Regions from separate parts of the Homo sapiens genome. Here all the other regions are linked to region 1. Evidence: fine-mapped expression QTL. A gene starts in region 1. Each other region holds a variant in brackets. All regions are shown on one strand. Distances are from middle to middle. Region 1 holds the start of DHRS12 (dehydrogenase/reductase 12). Region 2 has its middle 52 kb from the start of LINC02333. Region 3 overlaps WDFY2 (WD repeat and FYVE domain containing 2). Region 4 has its middle 7.4 kb from the start of TMEM272. Region 5 has its middle 41 kb from the start of CCDC70. Region 6 overlaps TMEM272 (transmembrane protein 272).

The links. PIP is the estimated chance that this variant, and not a neighbour inherited with it, causes the effect. A credible set is the group of variants that fine-mapping cannot tell apart.
Region 2: its variant is the best candidate, but not a certain one, in a credible set for the expression of DHRS12 in whole blood (TOPMed, PIP 0.59).
Region 3: its variant is the best candidate, but not a certain one, in a credible set for the expression of DHRS12 in whole blood (TOPMed, PIP 0.89).
Region 4: its variant is the best candidate, but not a certain one, in a credible set for the expression of DHRS12 in whole blood (TOPMed, PIP 0.85).
Region 5: its variant is the best candidate, but not a certain one, in a credible set for the expression of DHRS12 in whole blood (TOPMed, PIP 0.87).
Region 6: its variant is the best candidate, but not a certain one, in a credible set for the expression of DHRS12 in whole blood (INTERVAL, PIP 0.89).

What each region holds. Positions count from the first base shown.
Region 1 is chr13:51,802,182-51,806,271 of GRCh38, reverse strand. DHRS12 (dehydrogenase/reductase 12) reads left to right here and starts at 2,109. Exons shown (of 9, transcript NM_001377533.1): 1 at 2,109-2,218. LOC107984561 (a long non-coding RNA gene) reads right to left here and starts at 2,436. Exons shown (of 2, transcript XR_007063805.1): 1 at 1,471-2,436. RefSeq lists enhancers at 1,229-1,358, 3,744-3,793 and a silencer at 1,909-2,548.
Region 2 is chr13:52,279,902-52,283,991 of GRCh38, reverse strand. It overlaps the pseudogene TPTE2P2. Among named protein-coding and RNA genes, the nearest start is that of LINC02333, 52 kb to the left of the region's middle. The variant C/T (reference allele first, on the strand shown) is at 1,862.
Region 3 is chr13:51,767,260-51,771,349 of GRCh38, reverse strand. It overlaps WDFY2 (WD repeat and FYVE domain containing 2), which reads right to left. Exons shown (of 12, transcript NM_052950.4): 12 at 3,641-4,090. It overlaps DHRS12 (dehydrogenase/reductase 12), which reads left to right. Exons shown (of 9, transcript NM_001377533.1): 8 at 2,057-2,194; 9 at 3,054-3,357. The coding sequence ends at 3,163. Among named protein-coding and RNA genes, the nearest start is that of DHRS12, 35 kb to the left of the region's middle. The variant G/A (reference allele first, on the strand shown) is at 2,095.
Region 4 is chr13:51,850,568-51,854,657 of GRCh38, reverse strand. It overlaps a transcript of TMEM272 not described here. Among named protein-coding and RNA genes, the nearest start is that of TMEM272, 7.4 kb to the right of the region's middle. The variant T/C (reference allele first, on the strand shown) is at 1,877.
Region 5 is chr13:51,901,270-51,905,359 of GRCh38, reverse strand. It overlaps a transcript of TMEM272 not described here. Among named protein-coding and RNA genes, the nearest start is that of CCDC70, 41 kb to the right of the region's middle. The variant G/T (reference allele first, on the strand shown) is at 2,422.
Region 6 is chr13:51,840,277-51,844,366 of GRCh38, reverse strand. All of the region lies in intron 1 of TMEM272 (transmembrane protein 272), which reads left to right. Among named protein-coding and RNA genes, the nearest start is that of TMEM272, 2.9 kb to the left of the region's middle. The variant AT/T (reference allele first, on the strand shown) is at 1,745.

The DNA.
Region 1 (4,090 bases):
CTGAGGCCCAGAGGCTAAGTGACTTGCCCCCATTTAGTATGATGCAGCAGGGAAGGTGTGGGCTCTGGAATCATACTACCTGGTCTCAAAGCCTGGCTCCACCATGTATTTACTGTGACCTGAGTCAAGTTATGTAACCTCTCTCAGTTTGCTCATCTGTAAAATGGGGATAATAGCAGGAGTAACCATATGGATCAGTGTGAGAATTAAGTGCTATAATCCACAATGCTTGGCACACTTTAAGCCTTCTATACATTTTATCACATGGGTCACACAGGGAATAACTGGCAGAAATTGGACTAGAATCCAGCTCAGCTGACTCCAGTTAAACGGGAACATTCCCTTGTGAACTCCATACTGCCCTTTGTTTGTGTGTGTGTGTTACTTGGCATCCAGGTGAGAGTGGAAGCTCATTTTGAGACAGGGTTTGGCTTTTCCTAAGACCTCCTCTTTAAATGTATATAATGTATACACTAACTACCTCGTGGATGCTTGATTTGAGGCTAACACTGGACACCTCATGCCCTCATGGAAATTTCTTGAATGTACACTGCATGGCTGTAAGCGCAGGGGAAAAAGGAATGAGAAGAAAACTTAAGGAGGGAAACCAACACTTCTGATCACTTTGTATGAAACTAAGCTCTTTATAATGAATGCCTTTAATCACAACCACCCCACGAGGTGCGCATATTCATTCCCATTTTACATATTAAGAAACCAAGACTGAGGGTGTATGCAGCATGCTCAGGTTCACCTGGCTAATGCAGAGAGCTGGGTTTGCAGCCACACTTTTACTTCAAGGGGCTGCTGACACCCTCCAAGAGACTTGGTGGTTCAAAACTATTTCTCATCCCCTCTCTGCGAGCCAAAAGCCTATTTCCTGAGGTGTTCAGAGAGATTCAGAGCAGATTGACACCTTTTCCATCACTGACACAAAGAGGAGGGTATAAAAAACAGTATGTAGCCCTGGGGATCTAAAATATTTTCCCAGCCAAATCGGACAGGCATTGAAAGTCACACAGGCTGGGGTGGTTTTACAAAATGCCACTTGTTTAAATTTCCTTTCATCACTCTGTCAGGAATAACAGCAACGTAGTGGAGCCTCAGAGTCCTGTTGAGAGGGGCGAGCTGTTCCGGGGAAATTTATTTCAAAAGTTATTCTGAAGTAAAAACTTGCCCACTGTGGAGTGAGGTTGGACAGTGATCCTATATCCTAGGTAATGAGGCTATTAAAGCAGCTGGTCTCTTCAGCTTATGTAAGTGGGGCCCAGTCTCTGGGCGACTTGGGTAAACCGGTATAGAATTTAACAGGGTGACTAGGAGTGACAGCAGCAGTAAGACCCCCATTTCTAATGTGGCGTTAGGGCTGGAGGTTAGATGTGGACAGGGGTGTCTGAGTCCTACATAATGGGGCTGGATGACTAGTCTGAGATCTGGGTTCACGCAGCAACCACACTCTTTTTTACTCACACTGTTCATCTGGGCTTGGGTGGAAAGAGGCTGATGAGGATTTGGGGGAAATCAAGGGGCTCTCCCTGGCATTGCATGAAGTCGCAGAACCAGTGGCAAAAGTCCAACTTTGGAGACAATTACTTCTCGGGTGGGAGCCCCAGCCCTGCCTCTTGCCTGCGATGTCGCCAATCTGACTGCGCTTGCTGGAGACGGGAAATGTGGCACGGCACTGCATCCCCCAACACGTGTAGAAACTTAGAGAATGCCAGTTATTAAAATAACCCTTATGATAACACCAATTCGATGCAGAAGTCTTTTAAATATCATAAGCCTCGTCGTTTTATTCCACATGGTTTTCTAGGTAACCAAATTCTAGGAGGTGCGTTGCAGGGCCATCTTCGCATCCCGGCCATGCCCAGCAGGACGGTGTTCTCTAAACGGCGCTGATGCCCGATTTCGACCCCGAGGAGACTGCGGACCTCGACTGCGGCCCCCACCAGGGCCGGTCCGCCCTCACTCCACCCTCTGAGGCTGGGGCGGAGTCGACCGGCCGGCCCCGAGACCCCTTGCCTTACCGGTGGAGCAAGGAACCGGAAGCCGCGGCTCTTACATAACCGGGATGATGTCAGGGCGGGCGACTCCCGGGGGGCGGGACCAGGGCGGAGGCCGCGCCGGGAGCGCGGTGGGGCTAGGCGTGGGGCGCTCCCGGCATGTCCCTGTACCGCAGCGTCGTGTGGTTCGCCAAGGGGCTGCGCGAGTACACCAAGTAAGGCGGCGCGGCGGGGCGCGGGGCCCCGGGCTGTCACGTGGCCCGCCTCGGCGCGGGCGAGCAGGGTTGGCGGGGACGCGCCCGCGGCTCCTTCGCCCTCTCGCTGGGCCGACTAAGCGTGTCCAGAACGACGGGTGCGCCCGCCGTCTAGCGACCCACGGCTGGGCGTGGGGCAGTCGCCAGACTCCAGCCGCTCAATGCCCGCGACCGAGACTGGCGCCCGAGGGGCGGGGCTGTGGCGCGCCCAAGCCCAGGGCCGTCCCACTGACGTCAGGCGGCCCCGGCGCCAAGGAGCCTCTTGGGCGGCACCTCGGCGCCCCGCTGGGTGTGCTCGTGGAAGTGTCTTCGTGGTGCTGCTGGCGGCGTCAGATAGGGCTGGATCTAAATCGCTAGCTAAGGCTCTGTCCTAGTGCCTTTGGGTGTGTTTCCTTTAAAAAGATGCAGCACCTGGACTGCGACCTTTGGCTCCAGCTGGAACTTTCCAGCCAGTGTGTGCTTCTGGGGAACGGTGCGTGGTGGTTTCGTCGCCCCGTGACCACGCTCAGTGTGCCCTAGTTGGCTCTCCACCTCATTGTGGTTTTAAGAGGTGACAGGTTCCTGTGACGGAGGAGAGATGGAGGTTTTCTCTTAGAATTGATTAGGCTAACCGCTGGTTCTCAACCCTGTCTGCACATCAGAATCACTGGGCGAGAATTAAAAGTACCCAGTTTTCAGGCCCCATCCCTACAGATTCTGATTTAGTGGATCTGCACAGGGGCCTGGACTGGCATTTCATCCAAATGCCCCAGGTGATTCTCACCTCTGAGAGGCTTCTCCCTGCACTGGGGCTTTATCAGTTCCCACGGCAACCTGGCCAGCACTCCTAGGGGAGGTAGGAGTTGCAACTCCCTGCTCTTCACCCCACATCGTTTTGGAGAAGGTTCAGCTCTGTCTCAGGAGCCCCTGCTGCAGAGAATGGTGGGGAGTGTAGTCGTGAGCCCTGTCCCACAGTTTTTAGGGGAATACAGTGGCAGCCTCTTTCTTTCAAAGGGGTGTCCTCTGGCAATGACCATTAATTGCTGGATCTTTCCACATTACACAGCATGAAAGCTTAAGTCAGTTTCCAACCAGGGGTGGGCCCCAAGGAAAGCAGACTGTAAAAATTTCTCCCAGGACTCTTTCGCTCTGATTTCCCCACCTTGAGGGAAGGTAGAAGTGAGGCCAAGGGGCCCAATCCACCACAGATTGGTGGGGGAAGGGAGGGGAGGGGAAGGCAGTTGGCAAAGTTAGATGGGTTTTCCTGCTGTTGTGGATTTAGTGAATAGGAGAGAAAAACAACAACCTTGTTTTGACTTCAGTGTGAGAGCGCGGAGTTAGAGTTTACAACGTTTCTCTTGGCACAAGGATTTTTATAAAGCCTCCCTATATTGGGCTCCTAAGGCAGGAGGATCTAATCACTGTTTCCTAAACTTTGCTGAACCTAATAATTCCCTGGGGCAGTTTTAAACAGACTCCTAAACCCTGGGCAAGTGTGGATGGGTCCTAAGCAAATTTCATATTTGGGTAAATTGAGGGTGTGGGGAGACACAGATACCTGCCAGCTTCCTCCTCCCCATCCCTGTCACCTCAGCTTCAGGAAACAGTAAGTACAAATGTCCTCTCAGCTTGAGTCAAAATCACTGGCAAGGCACATGAAACCACAGGTTGCCAAGCAATCACTTCTGAGTCAGTAGGCAGGGCATTTCCAACAGGTTTCCAGATGATGCTGATGCAGCTTGTCTGGGGACTGCCCTTTGGCACCGAGGCTGGGTGTTGAAGAAGATCACCTACCTTCTGGTGACCTTGGGAAAGTCGTGTGTGTGTGTGTGTGTGTGTGTGTGTGTGTGTGTG
Region 2 (4,090 bases), 480 kb before region 1:
GGAACTGGAGATCACTACGTTAACTGAAATAAGCCAGGCACGGAAAGACAAACACCACATGTTCTCACTTATTTGTGGGCTCTAAAAGGGTTAACAGTTGAACTCATAGACATGAGTAGAAGGATGGTCATCAGAGGCTGGGAATGGTAGTAGGAGGTTGGGGGTGGGGAGGTGAGGATGGTTAATAGGTACAAAAAAATAGAAAAAAATGAATAACACCTACTGTTTGCTAGCACAACAGGGTGACTATAGTCAATAACAATTGTACATTTTAAAATGACTGAAAGTGTAATTGGATTGTTTGTAACACAATGATAAATGCTTGAGGGGATAGATACCTCATCATCTATGATAAGGGTGGTTAATATGCATTTAATTATATGTCTTGCTATACTTAAATTGCCATATTGGTGTTTTAGTTATATATATGTGTCAAATGATGAATATAAATTTATTGTTTGAAAACTTCCCATGAATGTTATATTTTTCCCTTAGTCTACTCTAGAAAATGCATTTTAAATAATGTATGAAAGTAGAATTCTTAATGGGGATCAGTCAATAGTTGTGGTCTTTAAATATTCCTATCTCTTCTTGCAGGGGAGATGAACTCATATTTTTCTGTTTTATATTACAGGAGACAGCATTATTTTTCTGATTTACTTAACATTTTAGATACTGCTGTTACTGTGATTATTCTGCTGGTTGATGTCGTTTACATTTTTTTTGACGTTAAGTTTCTTAAGGATATTCCCAGGTATGAAATATAAGACTCACTTCTCTTAAAATTTTTCATTTACTTTTTGCATTTTCTGTGGCTTTTATTCTGTATAATCTTTTCAACTTCAAATGGCTCATTTTATACCAAATATGTTGCTTTAAAATGAAATGTTTAGGTAAATTCCCACATAGGTTGAAACTAAAAGATTGTGATACTTAGGGACCAGTGAAGAGTATACACACCAAGTACCATTCATTGAATAAAAAAGATGGAGTAGCCAAAGAAGGACTTTACTTCCTGTACTAACTTTAACTTCACTACATTTTGAAGTTCTCGTCAAATTCCCATTTGTATCATTTTTGGCCTTTTGGCTAAGATCAAGTGTGACATTCTTATTAGTTTCATATGTGATACATAAAAAAATTTGATATTAAAAACAATTCCCCTCTGTGCTTCAACTACAAATCCCTTACACATAATGTTCTCTCTGGGTTTTTCCCACAGCCAAGAGGGAATTTATTTGAGCATATGCAAAATTTGAGTGACTTTAATCACAATTTTCTTTCTTTTTTTTTTTTTCTAGTTTTAGTGGTCTTTTTTTTTTAATTTTTTTTTTATTATACTTTAAGTTTTAGGGTACATGTGCACATTGTGCAGGTTAGTTACGTATGTATACATGTGCCATGCTGGTGCGCTGCACCCACTAACTCGTCATCTAGCATTAGGTATATCTCCCAATGCTATCCCTCCCCCCTTCCCCTACCCCACCACAGTCCCCAGAGTGTGATATTCCCCTTCCTGTGTCCATGAATCACGATTTTCTTTTCCTTTTTTTTTTTTTTCTTTTGAGATGGAGTCTCACTGTGTTGCCCAGGCTGGAGTTCAGTGGCATGATCTCGGGCTCACTGCAACTTCTGCCCCGCCGGTTAAAGTGATTCTCCTGCCTCGGCCCCCCGAGTAGCTGGGATTACAGGCATGCACCCCCATACCTGGCTAATTTTTGTATTTTTAGTAGAGACGAGTTTCACCATGTTGGTCAGGCTGGTCTTGAACTCCTGACCTCAAGTGATCTGCCCACCCCGGCCTCCCAAAGTACTGGTATTACAAGCATGAGCCACCGTGCCCAGCCTCAATCATGATGTT[C/T]TAAGAAATAGAAAACAGAACAGAAAACTAGGAGATGACACGTATAGCAACACAACAGTAGAGTTTTGCAGTATAGTTGTGGTAGAAACAAAGAAAGCTAAGGCAAAGTTAGAACTGTTAGGGATTAGGAAACTAAAGGGTGTATGAGGACCTGGTGACTCTCTTTTTGTTCTTCTTTTCTACTGTGACAATGAGGAAAATGGAAGAGCAAACGTATACTGGGATGGAGATGTTTGTGGCTTCCTAAGCTTGTTCATGGGTCAAATACCGGGTTTCTTTCTGTACCCTAGCTTCCCTGGACTACAACTCAGGCACCAACTAAGCATGTTAAGTGATAGGCTTTTGGAGTTGTTTGAAAATCACCTCAGCCAATGTGGTCCTCTGACTAGAAACCTCAGCATCACTTGAGAGCTTGCTAGAAATACAAGAAAAATACCTTAGGCCCCACCCTGGACCCACTGAATCAATATCTCTGGGATCCAACAATCTGTAGCTTAACACGCTTTTCCAGATGACTCTTCTTTATGCATGCTTAAACCAGATAAGCACTAGTCCAGACCATCAGTTATCTGCTTTGATGTTTCTGACGGTAGGAGAGATACCAGCTAGCACACTTGGGAAGTATCTCAATCTGTTGCCTGCCTAATGTGCATTAGCAGCTGTAGTGAACCTCTGTTACAGATGGGAGTAACAAAGGTGAACAAGAATCCTCAATTTGTTTTGATGTGGAAAAATTGAAAATGCTAGTCTCAAATCCCAACATTAAATTTACAAATTCTAAGACTCTATTGTTTCACTATTTCTCTAGACCAGAATTTTTCAACCTCAGCATTACTAACATTTTGGGCCAGATCATTATTGTCATAGGAGGGTGGTGAGCAGTTATATTCATTGCAGGATGTTTAGCAGAATTCCTGGCTTCTATCCATTAGATGGAAGTAGCGCATGCATGCGCGCGCACACACACACACACACACACACACACACACAAGCACACCAGTTGTGAAAACCAAAAATGCCTCAAGACACTGCCAAATATCCCCCATGTAGGTGATTGAGGAGAGGAGGGAAAATTGTCCCTGGTTAACAACTGCTGCTCTAAACTTAATTTATATTCATAAAATTGTCTGTTTCTGAAGCAAAAATTGATCTTTTAAATTTATTTTTAGATGGACACGTTTATTTCGACTTCTACGACTTATCATTCTGATAAGAGTTTTTCATCTGGCTCATCTAAAAAGACAACTTGGAAAGCTGATAAGAAGGCTGGTAAGTGGGCAAAACATGCTTACGATTCAGAAAAATATTTTGTGTTTTGGGACCCATTGGCAAGGGTTGATATCTATACTGTATAATGTTCTTTATTTTTATGTTGATTTATGTTTCACCAACTAATAATGGTTTTAAACTCTCAGGTTTCAGGAAACAAAAGGTGATACGAAAGTGATGGATTTGACCTAGACCTCACTTATATTACAGGTTTGTGACACTTAACTGTTGATTTACTTACATTAACTTCACTTTTTCTTGTAATTATATTTTTATTTTGTTTTTGCCTCATCTAAGCCACATTCATTCAAAGTATTCTTTATTCGTGAGGCTATATGCTATGCCATTGTGATAGTGTGACATATTTGTGGTTTAGCCCTGGCAAGGAAGATTTCCATGTCATCTCAATTCAGGACTACTCGGTTGCAGCACAAAAACTTGAATGGATTTTCAGCTGACTCCATTTGAGTTTCAGTTTATTAAGTTCTAGTAGTTATCCTGAATCCCAAGGATCCCAGAGAGACCGCTTCTCTTCCTAGAACCCCAGAGAATGAGGTCACAGCTTTGTAGATCTCAGGTGTTCTGAGTCAGAGGGCTACAAAGCACGTTGGGAGTTCCCACCATCACTGGTGCCCAGAACTCTTGGATTTTCTTTGGTATTTAAGATAAGAAATAAATTCCAAGAACAGGGGGAACTTCAGACTGAGGCCAACATAAGTACATGGCATATGGTTTGAACCAGTGGAGTGTTAAGAACACCATGCCAGCTTAATGGTCATTATGTTGGATAATTTAATATGTTATCTTGATTACCCTGAGTATTAGCTCTTTTCTGTCAACCTCAATCTTAAAAGGTATTTTTCTGTGAAAATGGAGTCTGATCATATAAAATTAACTTTTGTATGTTATTTTAAATCTATAATAATGTTTGTAATAGTGATGATTTTGACTTCCAGAACA
Region 3 (4,090 bases), 35 kb after region 1:
GGTGGAGGGGAGCAGAATTCTCTTCCGGATTGGCCTCACCAACTCCATGACCTCAGGCAGCTCACCTGGGCTCTCTGCAGCTCTTTCCTCCTCTACAAACAAGGGAACTGAAAGCAGCAGCAGCCACAGCACACACCCCAGGGTGCACCCGCGGCGCCAAGAACTGGTCTCAGCGCTGTCTGCGGATTAACGCATTTGTCCTCAAGCCTCTGTGGAGTGGCCACTACTGTCTATTATCACACCCATTTACAGATGAGGGAACTGAGGCCCAGAGAGGCTAAGACCTCCCAGCCGGGCCTGGCCATGGGGTTTTGGGAATCAGGCTCTCACACACTGCTGGCATGGCCTTTCTGAAAATCACTATTTATCAGAAGCCTTGGAATTCATCCTAAGAAATAAAGATAGGGAAAACAAGGTTGCTTATCACAGTGCTGGTGGTAGGAGATGAAGTTAATAAATTATAGAACACCTGTGCAAAATCTGTTCAGGGCTGAAGACTCTGCTGCCAATCATGCCTATGGAAAAACCCTGTGTGCACTATATCATTAAATGAAGATACCAAGTTCCTGAATAGTACATGCCTCATGATCTTATTTTTGTAACTACCACACCCCTATAGAAAGAGGTGTGTGTTGGTGCTTTGTGGCATCTCATGGAGACCAGCTTGGAGATTTGGCAGAAATTAGTCCTCACCTGTACAGATCTGAGTCTCCTGTCTTAAATACAGAAAGGATGTTCTCAGCAAAGTATACTAGGGGAGACTCAGCCTGGGAGTGCTCAGAGAGCATGGCTTCTCGATTCTTCTCACGGCCTAATGGGAGACATGCTTGGTTCTGCCTGTCCAGGGTGAATTCTAGGAGGCCATGGGGGGCCCCCAGCCTCTTACCCTCCAAGGACACCATTCTGACAATCCCAGCATCAGCTCAGATGTTTAAAATCTGCTTGGCAAGCCCACCAGCGGGCTCTATCATCTGGGTCAAGGTGCAGTTTACCATGTGTTGTTCAGAGGTTACAGAGCAGCTCTCAGGTGCACACAACCTGTCTGTGGCCACAGGGGCCTGGGAGGGCTGAGCATGCGGACATGTGTCACCGCGGAGTGACACATCACAAGGTTTTCACATTTTTTCTTTTTGCCTATCAGTTTATCCTGATTTTTCTACAGTAAACAAGTATTGCTTCTGTGAAAAGAAAAAAAGATGTTTATTTTTAATTTAAAAAAGGAGGGCTTTTGCTTAGGTGATCCTTTCTAGCTCTAAAATTCCATGATCTCAGTAAGGCTCTTAATTGTTGTTTTCTCTGGTTTATTTTCTTTCCTTGGCTTCGAGAGAGAACTATTTTGTTTCCCAATGTGCTCACTGTGGAGACACTGTGTTCCCTGAGGTCTGTGGGAAAATGGGGTGTGGACTGGAGCCAGAGCGTGTGGCTGGGTCCTCGAAGGCGTGGGCAGGTAGAGTGCCCGACGCTGTGGCACAGGCCAGGCCCGGGAGGCTACTCCAGGCAAACACCTCCCTGTAGCCCTGGGATGCAGAGGGTGGGACACCTCGAGGGGCTTGGCAGAGGAAGTGAAGAATTCTTTCCTCTTATCTACTCCTCCCTAAAAGAGGAAAACACTAAAACAGTCCAGGGAACCAACAGCCAGGATCCTCTGAGCCTAGATGGTTTGAGAGGGCTCCTGAACCCAGGAGACTAAGTGGTTTGCTGGGCCCAGCCTCACTGTGAGCCCCACAGCTCATTAGAATCCTCTCTTAGGATGGAAAGGGAGGGCTCTGCGGGCGACTCTGCTCTCAGGGCTGGGCTGGGTGCTGGTGCCCCGGGGACATGGGGACTCAATCAGGCCTCTGGTGAGCACCACTTTCCATCAGGTGACACCTTGGGGGCTTTGTAACAAGGTTCTTTGGAACTGGTTCCGAGTGGCTTGGGTGAGTGCTATAAAATAGAAGGAGCAGTTTATGATCCCATTTCATTTTTGCACTTTTTTTTTTTTTTAAATTAAGGGAAGTCAACCACATTTGCTGGAGAATGCTGTCCTAATCCGCCTGACCCTTCCTTCTCCCAGGTGTGAGGCAGGCGATGCCGGGGTTCCACGCCAGGTTC[G/A]GGGACCGCCTGCGCTCCGAGGCCCAGGGCGCGGACACCATGCTGTGGCTGGCCCTCTCCTCTGCCGCAGCCGCACAGCCCAGCGGCCGCTTCTTTCAAGGTGACTTCCTCCCTGGCTGTGAAGGCAGCTGACACAGGGCTAGGGGCAGCAGCTGGGCCTTCGAGGCGCACCTTCCCCTCCGTGAAACCTGGGGTGGGACTGTCCCCTGGGGGGTGCCTGGGCTTCTTTGGCGAGATGATTGCTTTGCCTGCTGAGGTTAGTTTTGGGAAGCGCTTCACTCCAGGTTGGTAGCTTCTTTGGAGACTTGTGATAACCCTGTCATCAAGGTCCTGTGAGAACGGGAGAGGCAGTTCCTACCTTGGGAATGGAAGATTTTCTCTGCAGTTTGCTGAGGCCCAGGAGGGGCGCTATTCAAAGCTGCACTGCAAAGGGAGTAACGGACTCTGCTTCTCTGCAGTGCAAAGGGTGTAAGGGACTCTGCTTCTCTATTTTTGGAAGCAGTGATCTGTTCACGTCTCTCCCCAGTGGGCTCCTAAGGGGGCAGGCGTGTGAGTGGACGCCATCCGAAGACAGCACTTGACCTCGGGTGGAAGCCAGGCTCTTTGCTTGGCTTCTCTTTCCTCTGTTCTTGATGAGAACCACCCTTGCTTGAGGAATTCTGAAGCGCTGGTGACCCCTGGGGTATCCGGGAGGATGGCCGCACCCCTTCCTGCTGATCACCCAAACGTGGTCTCCCGTCCAGCCCTGGCTGCAGCCTCCCAGTTCCCAAACTGCACTTTACATATCAATCCATGCTGCCTGATCCCTGTGGGACCTTTGACAGCAGGGATGGGGGTCTAACAGCTGTAGGGTGCTGCCACTCCAGCAGGCGTCGGTTCAAGGCCTGAGCAGCACAGGGACATGGACCCAGCCACGCTGCAGCAGCTCACACCTCTCTGCGGTTCCCTCTCACTTTTAGATCGGAAGCCAGTTTCTACACACTTGCCTCTCGCTACAGCGTCCTCCTCACCGGCCGAAGAGGAGAAACTCATTGAAATCCTGGAACAGCTGGCTCAGACATTTAAATAGGCCAACCCAGACACAGTGCGGTACCAGAATTGCCTTAGAAGATACCAGAAGGTGCGGTCTAGGGACCAGTGAATAAGAAGACCCCACTTCAACTTCCCCTCGAAGACGTTGTGCCTCACAGCGAGGCCTACAAGGGATGGGAACTTTTATTTCAAAATAAATACTACCGAGGCTGTGATCAGGCTCACCTTGAACTCCTGCAGCAGGTTCTTTTCTTATTTTAAGTCTCATTTATTCGAGAATGGTTTTCTAAAGAATTCGAAGTTTGAGATGAACCATCATTTCAGTCTTAGGGGACGCAGGGGTGGGGGCAGCAGGAATGCCCCCCTGTGAACTCCACTTCCCCTCCCTTTCTCAGCTCCTCCAGTGTCAGAGGCTGGCGCTGTGCACCCCCCCCCCCCCCCCGCCCCAGGAGAGGGCTGGACACTGCCTTTACTGTGCATGGTCCCAGAAGCACAGCATAACCAAGGGACGATGCATATTTACACAAACAATTTAATGAGGCCTAGTTTACATTTGCTTAAGATTAGGAGTGGCTTCAGTAATGCATCTGGCATTCTGGTACTACACTTTGATAAAACCTCTAATTTACACCATTTTACCTCTTAGTGACTCCAGGAAAAGTTGTAATAAAACCAATGAGCAGATTTAGAATACATCTACATACATTCTTGGTGTCCATGGTGGAATAAACGTAACTCATCCCCCATAGCAGAGGAAAACCCAGACGGCTGCAGCTTCTCAGTGGTCCTGGAGACACTCTGATCCAGGGCTCATCATCAGCCAAGGACCACAAGGAAGGGATTTTTCTGGGTGTGCCAGCCTGAAACATCAGCGTCTTTCTGACAAAAGGAGGCGCTATCAAGCAAGCACCAGCTCCATTTAACTGCATGCCTCCTTTTCTGCAGGAGGATGATGGGCCTCAGC
Region 4 (4,090 bases), 48 kb before region 1:
ATTTCAGAAACTTGCCTAAAGCTACACAGAAGTAGAGCCTAGATTTGAACCAAGGCAGTTTTGCTCAGAGACCATACCTCTCTAAAGTAGAAGGTTACTATAATAACATAGGCATCAAATAGCCTGGGTCACAATGAGCATCATAGCTGGGGAGTCAGAGAAGAACAGATTGCTACAATAAATATTTTGAAGAAAGATGCAAAAGGTGATCAAATGGTTGCATGGCATGAAGATGAAGGAAGTGAAGGAAAGGTTTCAAGTACCCAGTCTCAATACCTGGAAAGTGATCGTGCACTGATAGAAATGTGAAATTGAGCTGGAGTTGATTTAGATGGGTTGGGGAAGTATTCTTACATGAAACTTTGGGATCCTCAGTGATTCACAGTTCATAAAGTGTTTGCTATTTCGGGTAAGCCTTATAATAGCCTCTGGAGGAAATAGCAATAAGATTATTATTGCTAAGTGTGAATGGAGTACAGAAAATAAATCACTTAACATCAGCGAGCTCACGGGATTGAAAAGGATATACTTTCTCCCCCTGCCACACACTTTGTACAAAATCAATATTTTCTGTTCACTCAAGATAGACAGTTTAACTTAAATATTTTAAAATCAGTGCCTCATGAGTGACACAAATTTAACTTAATCTTTTCAATGCTATTATTTTAAAAATAGTTTACCATTCTTGCCAATTTTCAAGGTAATGCATGTTCATTGTAAAAAGAAATCAGAAAATAGAGCAAAGATGAAGAAGAAAATGAAAATCAACCATATCCCAATACTCAAAGGTAACCAGTATGAACATTTTGGGGTATATTCTTCTAATATATTTCCTATCCTTATGACTACATATATTCTATGCAATTGGTTTTATTCTGTGTATGCTGTTTTGTGGCTTGCTTTTTCATATATCATTTACACTTCCCAATTTCTTTAAACATTTTTGAGAACACAATTTTTAATTACTGCCAGAGTGTACATTCCCCTATGTTGGAAAATTAATTTATTCCATTAGGGATATATTATGGTTGGCCCTTGAACAACACAGGTGTGAACAGTGAGGTCCACTTATACATGAATTTTCTTTGGCCTCTGTCACCCCTGAGACAAGAAGACCAACACCTCCTCTTCCTCTTCCTTCTCAACCTACTCAATGTGAAGACGATGAGGATGCAGACCTTTATGATGATCCATTTACACTTAATGAATAGTAAATATATTTTCTTTCTTCTTTCTTTTTTTTTTTGAGAGATGGAGTCTCGCTATGTTGCCCAGGCTGGAGTGCAGTGGCATGATCTCAGCTCACTGCAACCTCTGCCTCCCAGGTTCAAGCGATTCTTCTGCCTCAGCTTCCCAAGTAGCTGGGACTACTGGCATGCGCCACGAAGCCCAGCTAACTTTTGTATTTTTTAGTAGAGATGGGGTTTCACTATATGTTAGCCAGGCTGGTCTCAAACTCCTGACCTCAGGTGATCTGCCTGCCTCAGTCTCCCAAAGTGCTGGGATTACAGGTATGAGCCACCACGCCTGGCCTGGGATTTTCTTAACATTTTCTTTTCTCCAGCTTACTTTATCGTAAGAACACAGTATATATAATACATATAACATACAAAACATATGCTAATTGACTATGCTATTGTTTCTGGTCAACATTAGGCTATTAGTAGCTAAGTTTTTGGGGAGTTGAAAGTTACACATGGAATTCTGACTATGCACAGGTTCAGTGCTCCTAAGCACTCATTGTTCAAGGGTCAACTGTATTTTTTTTTTTTTTTTTGACGGAGTTTTGCTCTTTTTACCCAGACTGGAGTGGTGCAATGGCGCGATCTTGGCTCACTGCATCCTTCACCTCCTGGGTTCAAGCAATTCTCCTGCC[T/C]CAGCCTCCCAAGTAGCTGGGATTACAGAAGCCCGCCACCACGCCCGGCTAATTTTTTGTATTTTTAGTAGAGACGGGGTTACACCATGTTGGCCAGGATGGTCTCGATCTCTTGACCTCATGATCTGCCCGCCTTGGCCTCCCAAAGTCCTGGGATTACAGGCTTGAGCCACCGCGCCCGGCCGCGGGTCAACTGTATTTTCCTGGAAAAGTAGATCAAACTGGAAAATTGCTCAAAGATGAAGACAATGACAACATAATCATCACTGCTCATGGCCTCAGTCTCTGTATTGAAAGAAGAGAACTGTTTCTAGCCACACCAGCCATAAAGGAATCATGCCCTGGAAGCAGGCTTTGTGAAAGAGGAGACTTTGTCATGTTCACTGCTATATCCACAGTGCCCGTTTTATAAAGAGCTTCTGAAATTGAGCAGACAAAGACCACCAACCCAATAGATAAATGGCCAAAGGATATGAACAAATTGGTTGCAGACAAATGCAAATGGCTCTTAAATATATGAAAAAAATTTTCAACCATACTTATAATTAGAGAAATGCAATTGATTAAGAAAACTGTTGCATTTCTCATCGATCAAACTGGCAAAAATCCAAAAGTTTGACAATACACTCTGTTAGCAGAGTTGGAAGGAAATAGGCCCTGCTATACAGTGCTGGTAGGAATACAAACTGTTATAACCCCCATGTATGGGGATTTGTCAGAAACTAAGAAAATTACACGTGAATTTGCCTTTTCACCCAGCAATTCCATGTCTAGAAATTTATCCAGCAGGTACATGTACACAATTACAGAAAGATACTTGTGTAGGTTATTCATCGGAGTATTGTTTGTAATTCCAAAAGATTGGAAGTAACTCAATTTTGTAGCAATAGGGAACCACTTACATAAACTGGCACATCCACAGAGCAAAGTACTATGCAGCTGTAAAAAAATATATAACAGGCTGGGCGCGGTGGCTCACGCCTGTAATCCCAGCACTTTGGGATGCTGAGGCAGGCAGATCACAAGGTCAGGAGTTTGAGAGCAGCCTGGCCAACATAGTGAAACCCTGTCTTTACTAAAAATACAAAAATTAGTTGGACATGGTGGCGTGCGCCTGTAGTCCCAGTTACTCAGGAGGCTGAGGCAGGAGAATTGCTTGAACCCAGGAGGTGGAGGTTGTGGTGAGCCGAGGACATGCCACTGCACTCTAGCCTGGGTAACAGAACAAGACTCCGTCTCAAAAAAAAAAAAAAAAAAAAGGTAAAACAAAGGTCTTTTCGTGCTGATTTGGAGAGATTCCCAGGATACATTATTAAGTGAAAAAAAAAAATGACTACAAATGTAGGGCGTCTTCTTCTTCTTCTTCTTCTTGTTCTTCTTCTTCCTCCTCCTCCTCCTCCTCTTCCTCTTCTTCCTCTTCTTCCTCTTCTTTTTTTTTGGTTACGGAGGAGGCAAGATGTCACTCTGTAGTTCAGGTTGGAGTGCAGTGACATGATCATGGCTCACTGCACCTTCCACATCTCAGGCTCAAGTGATCCTCCCACCTCAGTCCCCCAAGTAGCTGGGACTATCAGTGCACGCCACCACACCCAGCTAATTTTTGTACTTTTTGTAGAGACAGGGTCTTGCTGTGTTGCCCAGCTGGTCTCAAACTCCTAGGCCCAAGGGATCTGCCTGCCTTGGCCTCCCAAAGTGCTGTAGTACCTCTTCTTTTAAACAAATCTTAAAATTGGAAATGAACACATGAACATAACCATACATCAAATATATACCATACCCCTACAGAGGAAGGATTATGTCACATGATCCTAGGGCACACTTCTTTGACTCACCCTCCTTAGCGGGATATATTCTAAAGAGGAGAAGAACTTCAAATAAATTTGAAACTTCAACTTGGTCATTTTATTTTTGTAGAAGTGCTGTACTGTTACTTTGAAACATTTCTTTCTATTGTATGACAAAGCATATAAATACGTTAATAATGTTAGGATTCAAAATTTTCAGTATAAAAGAAAAGGGATACAATGATAAAAATCAAATAAATTACACAAAAGAGTATAGTATTAGATTTAAATTTTAAATATCAAAAAGTACTCATGATTTTAAAAATAGATATGGTATAGCTCTGTTTATTGAAATGGACCGGTAGCAACAATATCACAGAAGCAATGCATACCCCCTATCCCCACCTGAGAAAAAATTATTGGTAAAATA
Region 5 (4,090 bases), 99 kb before region 1:
GTGGGACCTGCCGTGTCCGAGGTGGTGACAGCAGGCACTGAGACTGCTCTGGAATCATGGCTCTCTGAGGTTGTTGCTCTGAAGTCCTGCCTCTGGGCCCTCGTCCAGTGTCGTGACAGCTCTTTTCTCTGGAAGAGGGAGGACAGTCTCTCTCCCTGCACGAACTGCCTTCAGCCTGACATTTCTTCTCCTGCTTAGGGCCGTTCTCTGTTGACTGCTTCGTGTTGTCTGCTGTTTCTCTTAGCTCAATGCTTCTCAACGAGGGTGCTTTTGACCTCCCCCAGGAGCATTTGGTAATGTCCACAGATATTTTACACAGTAACTACTGGAGGTGTGCTACTGGCGTCAAGTGGTTGGAGGGCAGGGATGCTGTTAAACACCCCACAGCACACAGAACAGACTCCCACAGCAATTATCTATTCCAAAATGTCAGTACTAATGAGGTTAAGAAACACTACTAATGATGATGTTCCCCTACCTGGTAAATAAAATTCAAGGTTTTCAGCCTCCACATCAGTACAGAATGAATGTTTCTTAATTGAAATGCTTGGAGCCAGAAGTGTTTTAGATTTAGGATTTTGGAATATTTGCATTATATTTGCTGGTTGAGCATTCCCAAACTGAAAATCTAAAATCTAAAATGCTCCAATGAGCATTTCCTTTGAGCATGACCTTTGAGCATCATATTGATACTCAAAAAGTTGCAGAATTTTGAGCATTTCAGATTTTTGGATTGCTCAACCTGTACTTTTCACAATATCTTGAAAACGGACCATGCTTATCTTTTCTCTTTTGATCTAGAGCCTCCTTCTTTTCCACGTCCATACCATGAATTCCTATTCAAGCCCAGAGAAAATTATTCATTACTACTATGCATTAGCTGCTGAAGGCCAGGTGATGTTTTCCCAGATCTGACTCATCATGATCATGATCATCAATTATCATTATCATCATCATCAACAACAATTACCTTAGGGTCATCATAAGAATTGCATATAAGCTAGCCACCAAGCAGTCATCAGTCATCTGCCTTTAGCCCAGTGCTACCTGAATTCAGTTTCTGTCATCATGTATTTCTTAATTTCAAAATAGGCAGCAGCACTAAATCTGGTCCATGGGCTCATTAACATCATCATCATCATCATCATTAATATTACCATCATTGTCATCATCACTGCAAAGCAGGCAACAAGCAGTCATTAAGCTCATGCTGATTCTGATGCTGATGGTGAATGAGAAGCAGCACTGCAGAAAACCACCTCATGCCTAGCATCCCAGGGCCACAGGTGCTGTGTGTTAGATTGAGTGTTCACTTGTCCAGTGTGAATGTATTTTTGTTAAGAGTTATTGGCCTTTGAGTTTCTGGTGACCAGATGCTTCTTTCTAAACACACACACACACACACACACACACACACGTGGAAGACTGTTGGAGAAACCCAAATGGTGTCATAGGAGGCAGGTGTGAGAAGACACTTTGGTTGCACAACCAGGTATGATTCTGCCAGAGCAGAAGACCCTATATGGTTCTCTTTTCTGCCCCAGCACTGCCTCATTATGGCTATGATAGGTTTATTGAAGCTAAAGTTTGGGCATTCTGGGGCAGCCTTTGCCCCACACCCACACGAGTCTTTTTCATTTTTCGGTTGCCACTGAAGTCTGGAAATAGCACTCTGCCTTTTCCTCTGGCCCCATAGAAACCGGGACTTCTGGGTGTTTAACTTAGCATCTGACTCCATTAGATGCTCAGGGTCTCCTGCACTTACACCTAGGGATAGGAAAAAGGGGTGTTCTGGGGAGAGTAGGGGGAGCAGTTTGCCCTCTATTTGGTGGCTTTCCTTGTACAGTGGAGAGAGCAGCCAGAACCTGAAGTGACAACTGAGACATCGTCATCTGACGTAGAGTCTCTCTTCCCTCCCTGACCTCGTTGGTGTGCCACCTCTCCCTCCCTCCCATTTCCAACAGCATGCTTAGGAATGAGTTATGAAGTGTCTTATTGGAAACCAAGACCTCAATGGCAATGAAGGGAAGACACTATAGTTAGTTATTATTGATCATCTCTACCTGCACTTTCTATATTTGCAAGCACTTTTTGGGACTTAGTGAGTAATAAATAAAGTGTCTCTAGATCACCTTGCTGCTTCCCACTGCTGCTGCCTCGTGCATCCAGTTCTAGTTGTGTACCTCCTGGATACACACACTAAGGAGGTGAGACCTTCAAAAGAAATGCAAAATATTTCCACAATTGTGTTTGTGTACAAACTGACCTGTCAAAACCAAAACTATATTTAGGTACTAGATTATAATCAACACCCCCAGTGGATGCTATTGGTGCCTTGCCCAGGGCCCCTTTACCAGGCGGATGCACTCATCTCCCAGCTTTGAGTATTGCTCACCGCAGCCACCTGCTTCCTGAAGAATT[G/T]CCCTTGCAGAGCAGAAGCCACCATGCTAGGAAGTTATCCACTCCCTCGGCATCACATAGCCAATAACCAATTGCTGTCAGGGCTGTGTTAGTTATCTGTTTCTCAAAATAAATTACTCCAAAACTTAGTGCCTTAAACGGACAATGAATATTTGTTATTTCACAGTCTGTGTGTGTCAGAGATTTGGGAGCAGCTTAGCAGAATGGTTCCCGTTTGGGTTTCTCAGGAGGTTGCCCACAGACTGTCCATCAGGGCTGCAAGTGACCTGCAGGCTTGACTGAGGCAGGTGGCCTTGCTTCTGGGGTGGCTCACTGGCCTGGCTGGCAAGGTGGGGCTGGTTGTTGGCAGAATGCTCAGTCCCTCTAACCATGGGACTCTCCCAAGTTCAGCTTCTAGAGTAGCTATGATAACATACTTTCTATAAAACCTATATTCTAAAATGTATTTAATAAAATAACTTTCCTCTAATTTTTAAATCTGCAACATTGCAGCAGTTCATTTTAGACATTGAGAGGCTGAACATTTTAGATTCTGGTTCTAAAGGCATGTGGGTGCCCTCAACATCAATAGCAGCAGCTAATAATTCCCAAAGCTTTTCCAGGCGCCAGGCCGTGAGAAGGGCAAAATGTGTTGTGATTCTGTTGAAGTAATGCCTACCACCCCTTCAGTCCCACACTGAAAATGTAACAAGGCAACTGGGAAACTGTCTTCAACATCAGTGCTTTTTTTCATTTTGCTTCTCTTGATTTTTACATCTTACAAAACTGAGAATCCACCTATATTTATTCTTTCATCCAATGCACGTTGGCTTCTGACCTCACCCCTGAAATGGCTTCTCCAGAGGTCTGCAGTAACCCCCCTGATACCACATCCCAAGTGATTCTTTTCAGTTTTTTTATTACATGACCTTTCCATGGAGCTTGACCCCAGTGGATAACTTCCCAAGCTCCTCCTCCTTGAAACTCTCCTCTCTTGGATTTTGAGCTTGGATGACAGAGTGAGAAAGGCCTGGCGTTTTTGCTCTGGACTGGGTAACCCAATGAAGCTATGTGGATTTTCTGCACAAATTTGGAATGTAAACACACCCAATGGGGCTTCTGCCCAGAGGATTGTAGCTAGGCTGGGCTGGAGGTAGGGAAAGCAGGGAGGAGGCTACGTGTTTGTGGGAGGAGGCTGATAAAGCCTGAACTCGGGGAGGCAGTGAGCCTTAGGAGAGCAGGTAGATTCTAGATACTTAGGAGAGCCACTGTCACAGAGCTTTGTAAAGGGACTTGGGATGGAGTGGGCACTGGGGGAGGGCAGAAAGGAAAATAGAGACACTGAAGATGTGTCCAGGCTTCTCCGGGGGTAGTTAGTAATGCCATTGACCCAAGTCAACTGATGTATTTCTGTGTTTTTGTTGGATTCTTCTTCATTTTTGACTTTCCTTGGCTATATGAATTTCCAGAAGTACCTGTTCCAGGGGCAACTGACAACTGAGAGGGGTGTGAGGCATGGGAGGGCGGGTGGGGCACAGGCAGCTCCACCGGGCGCCACCCCTCTAGCAGGAGTGGTTTCTTTATATGTACCAGGGATATTTCTGCATTGAACTCTAGACCATGTGGAACTTGGCTTTTTAGCAGGTCAAATGCCAGGCACAACTTTCTAGCTGGACCAGATGCAGCCACA
Region 6 (4,090 bases), 38 kb before region 1:
GTTAATGTCTAATATTCAATGTTATTCAAAACCAAGAGTGAGTTGGTCCTCACAGCTGATTTAGGAATAAATAGTTTAATTTACCAAGCCAATCAGTAAAAACACAATCATATATATATATGTGTGTGTGTCTACACATACACACATATATATACATATATATATGTTTACTGTTGATTCATGACACAACTCAGAGGTTAACAAAAGTAGAATTTTACAAATTTGAACTCTAAAACTGGGAATGTTAGACAGACATAGAAAGTTTCTCAGACCTAGTCCTATTGACATTTTGGAGCAGATAAGTGTTGTTGGGGACTGCCCTGCTCCTTGGAGGATGTTTTTCAGTATCTCTGGTCTCTTTATCGACAGCCCTGCTCCAGCCATGACTATTAAAAATGTCTCCACATATTGCCAAATGTGCCTTGGGGATCAGATCACCTCTGGTTGAGAACCACTGAGATATATCAATTGGACTGAAAATTGAAAATGCATTGAGCATATCATTTGGCAATTATTATTGATTAATTCCCATCGTGCCCTTTATTATCACTCAGCTGCTAGGAGAGGAAGCAGCAGGGGCTATTATCACTGCCCTTCTAGGTGCAGAGGCAGGTGTGAGACACACAGTCCTATCACAGCATGCCCAAGGATAGACTTGTAAGTCACTGTTTGTTCACACTGGAGAGAAGGCACTGCCCGGCCTGTTACCCCAATCTCTTCCTGTTTCAGATTTCTAACAAATAAGAAAACTTTCTATCAAATAAGAAAAAATGTACGTTTTCTTAGTAGAAGATATAGAAGGTATAGAAATTGACTAAAATCTGTGTCATTACAGATTTTAGTCAATCATTTAATGGATTGCATTGACATGAATCCATCATTAGTATGTATTTGCTCTATTGGGCATCTCTTGCTGTTGAGGGACCCTCTTTTGGAAGAGCTGCCGCTTCAAAGGGCTCCAAGGAACGTGCAGTTTTTTGTGAGTTGTTCAAGTCCCCACCATAATAGTGAATAGGTCTTTTGTAGTGTATTTGAATCTGCAAATTCACACAGTGAATTCTGTGAATCAAAAAGCAGATTCACTGCTATTTTCTCAAATTGCAGCTTTCTTTGTGGGCTTCCTCTGAATTGAAATAAATCCATATCTTGGGTCATAAAAACCAAATCACAAGGGGGAACATACAACTGGGAAATAAGCCTAGAAAGAATTGGCAAAATATCACTGGCAATCAAAAATGTAAATTAAAATAATTAATTTCCACTTTTGCCTATGAGAGTAATAAAAATGCATTAGTCTTTCAGCCACCCAGTGCTGGTTAGGTGTGGTGAAACTGCCACTCTCATATTGCTGGTGGCACTGGAAATGGATACAGCTCATTTATAAGTCAATTTTACCTCAAATCCAAAAAGTTGCTTATGCTTTTTAATTACATAACTATTCCAAGAGATCTACGTGTGCATGAAACAAAGCACTTTTCATGGAGAGAAATGTCTCTTAGGATTACTTGAGTGAAAAGTAAATATCCAACAAGAAGATATAGAGAAATATAGTTTGATATAGCGTACTCTGTGAAATATAATTCAGCTGTGAAAATGAGAGTTCTGAAGACCAAATGGTAACAGAAAGAATGCTTATGTCAAAATGTGATGTGTTCACTTAATGTGCCTGATTATTGCAACCATGTAAAATGTGTGTACATGCACATATGCATATGTATATATGCATATACTTAAAAGCTCCAAA[AT/T]ACTAACAGTTGGGCTGGAAGTTCTGCAGTTGTTTATAATGACTAATGATTTTCTTTTCTCCTTGATCTAATTTTTCTGTGAATTCGCTTTTGTAATTTTTAAAGAAAGTATTCCAAAAGAGAAAAATCTTGCCTACCACCATCACATCATCTCTCTTCTTTTTGTGTCTGCTCCCTGGTGGACTTACTCCTTTTCTGCTTATCTATCTCCTACATGCTACTTTTTAAAAATCTCTGGACTTTTGGAAAGCAAACTACTTTTCATTTCAAATAATACTTCTTGAATTTTAAGAGGTTTTAAAAAGAAGTTTAAAATTATAATGGTAAAACCTGCTAATGGGGGAAAAGGCAAGGCAATATTTGGGTATAAAGTGGAAATGAAAATACTACCCACGCCTGCCTGCGGCACATTCCTCCCTACCCCTACCCCAGCCCCAGTGGCCCCATATCCCTGTACCTGCCTTCATAGGGAACAGTTATTCACAGTGGTTTAGTGTTTATGCTGCTGATCTTTTTCTATGTGTTTACGTAGATCTACAGACATTATTACATGCACGAGGTCATATGATGTGTGTGTGTGTGTGTTTAACATTTTATTCCTTGTAAGGGAAGTTGAACACAATATGCAAAGTTTGTCGGCCAGCATTTGAGACTGTACCTGGGAATTCTGTCTTCCCTTTCGGGCTGGATGCCAAAGCTGAGTTCTACTGCCACTGCTACCTGTCTCTTAGGGAACATTCTTTAAGGCGTGACAGAATTCACAGCACATCATTCTTTTTTTAGTTCTCATCCATCTTGCCAGTTTATGAAAATAACAAGCTTGAAAGAATAAGAGTCTCCTCATTTATAAAATGGATCTAATACCTGCGACTTGTGTTGGTGTGTTCTATTGGCTGCCACCTCTTGTGGTCTGATATTATCAATAAAGATATCACTGTTTTTCAAATTGATGTTTCTACCTTATTTGCAGTTAGTGGCTAAAGGGATCAGCCAATTTAGGACATTTGCATTAAAAAATGTATATGCAGCTCTATTACTTTTTGTGGTGAAACATTGTTCTTCAGGATTCACAGGAGATTAAAGCGTGACCTCTTACCCCAGGGAATGGCCCAAGGTAGAAATGTCTTGTTATAATGTGACACAGACCCATCTCGTTAGTTTCTGCAAAGCTGCTGTGGATTTGAAGACTGGAATGTCTTAGTTTGTAGGCGCTGATAGAAACCGTTCAACACATTTCAAAGGAAGTTTGTAAATCAGTGGCGACTCCACCAGGCAAGTGTAAAGAGATGGCTCTTGTGTCTCCTCCCTCTGTTCTATCCCTTCTGTGATCCAGGAGAAAAATGCTGTGGTTCGTGGCTGGAAGATGTGAAGTACACACTCTCCCTGTTATGTGAAGTGCACCCTCTGTTTTCCCTAAGAAGGGTGAGGAAAGGAACCGACCTTCCGGGCCTTTAGGAGCCGTGATGGGCCATGGCCCCTTTAGATAACTGGGCTTATCACTGGATCCAGGAGGGTTGTTTTTCCAGGCAGGGTTTTAAGTGGCTTAGCTTCTGTGACACCCGTGTGGCAATCAACCTCATGAAGTGTGGACATCAACAATAAATCTGTAATTCATACAGTAGCCATTTGTCCATGGCTTGGGGCCTACTTGTTATGTAACAAACGGATGTGCACCTGGCAAACCCCATTGGGCCAGAGAACTGGTCTCATTTCACCTTGATCGGTAGAATCCCGAGTCAAAGGATGTGGAAGGAGGCTGTGGTTTCCTCAGGGCTGTGGTGTTCCTGATTTTCTGTGTATAAGGACATCACAGCCACAGTTTTTGCAAGAACATTGTGGGGGAAAATGGAGCCTTGTGAAGAGACATTTGAATAGTAGTTCATAGAATTATTCATTAAACATTACTGAAGACCTACTGCATGCCAGGGAGACAGACTCATGCGCATCCCCCACAATTGCTTCCAGGAGAACAGTGGGCAGGGAGCCTGCGTCAGGAGGCAGAAACAGCAGAGGGACCCCTGGAATCCAAAGCGCTGCCTTTGGGATTCCCAGGGATTGGGGGGTCAGAAAACCTTGGGTGCTCAGCCCTGCCACTCTGTGTCCCATCATCTCACTGCAGTCAAAACTGTCAAAGTCCGTTCTGGTTAACAGAGAGTAGGCACCTCAAGTTTGGCAGATTTTAAGACACCTGGATTCCAATCTGGCTGTGTGATCTTGGGCAAGTCCTTCACTTTTCTGACCCTCAGTTTCTTCATCTGTAAAATGGGGATAAGAATCTTTGCCTGGTTAAATAGGATCAAGCATGACAGGACTGACCAGGGAGGCACCGTGACCTCCTTGCTTAA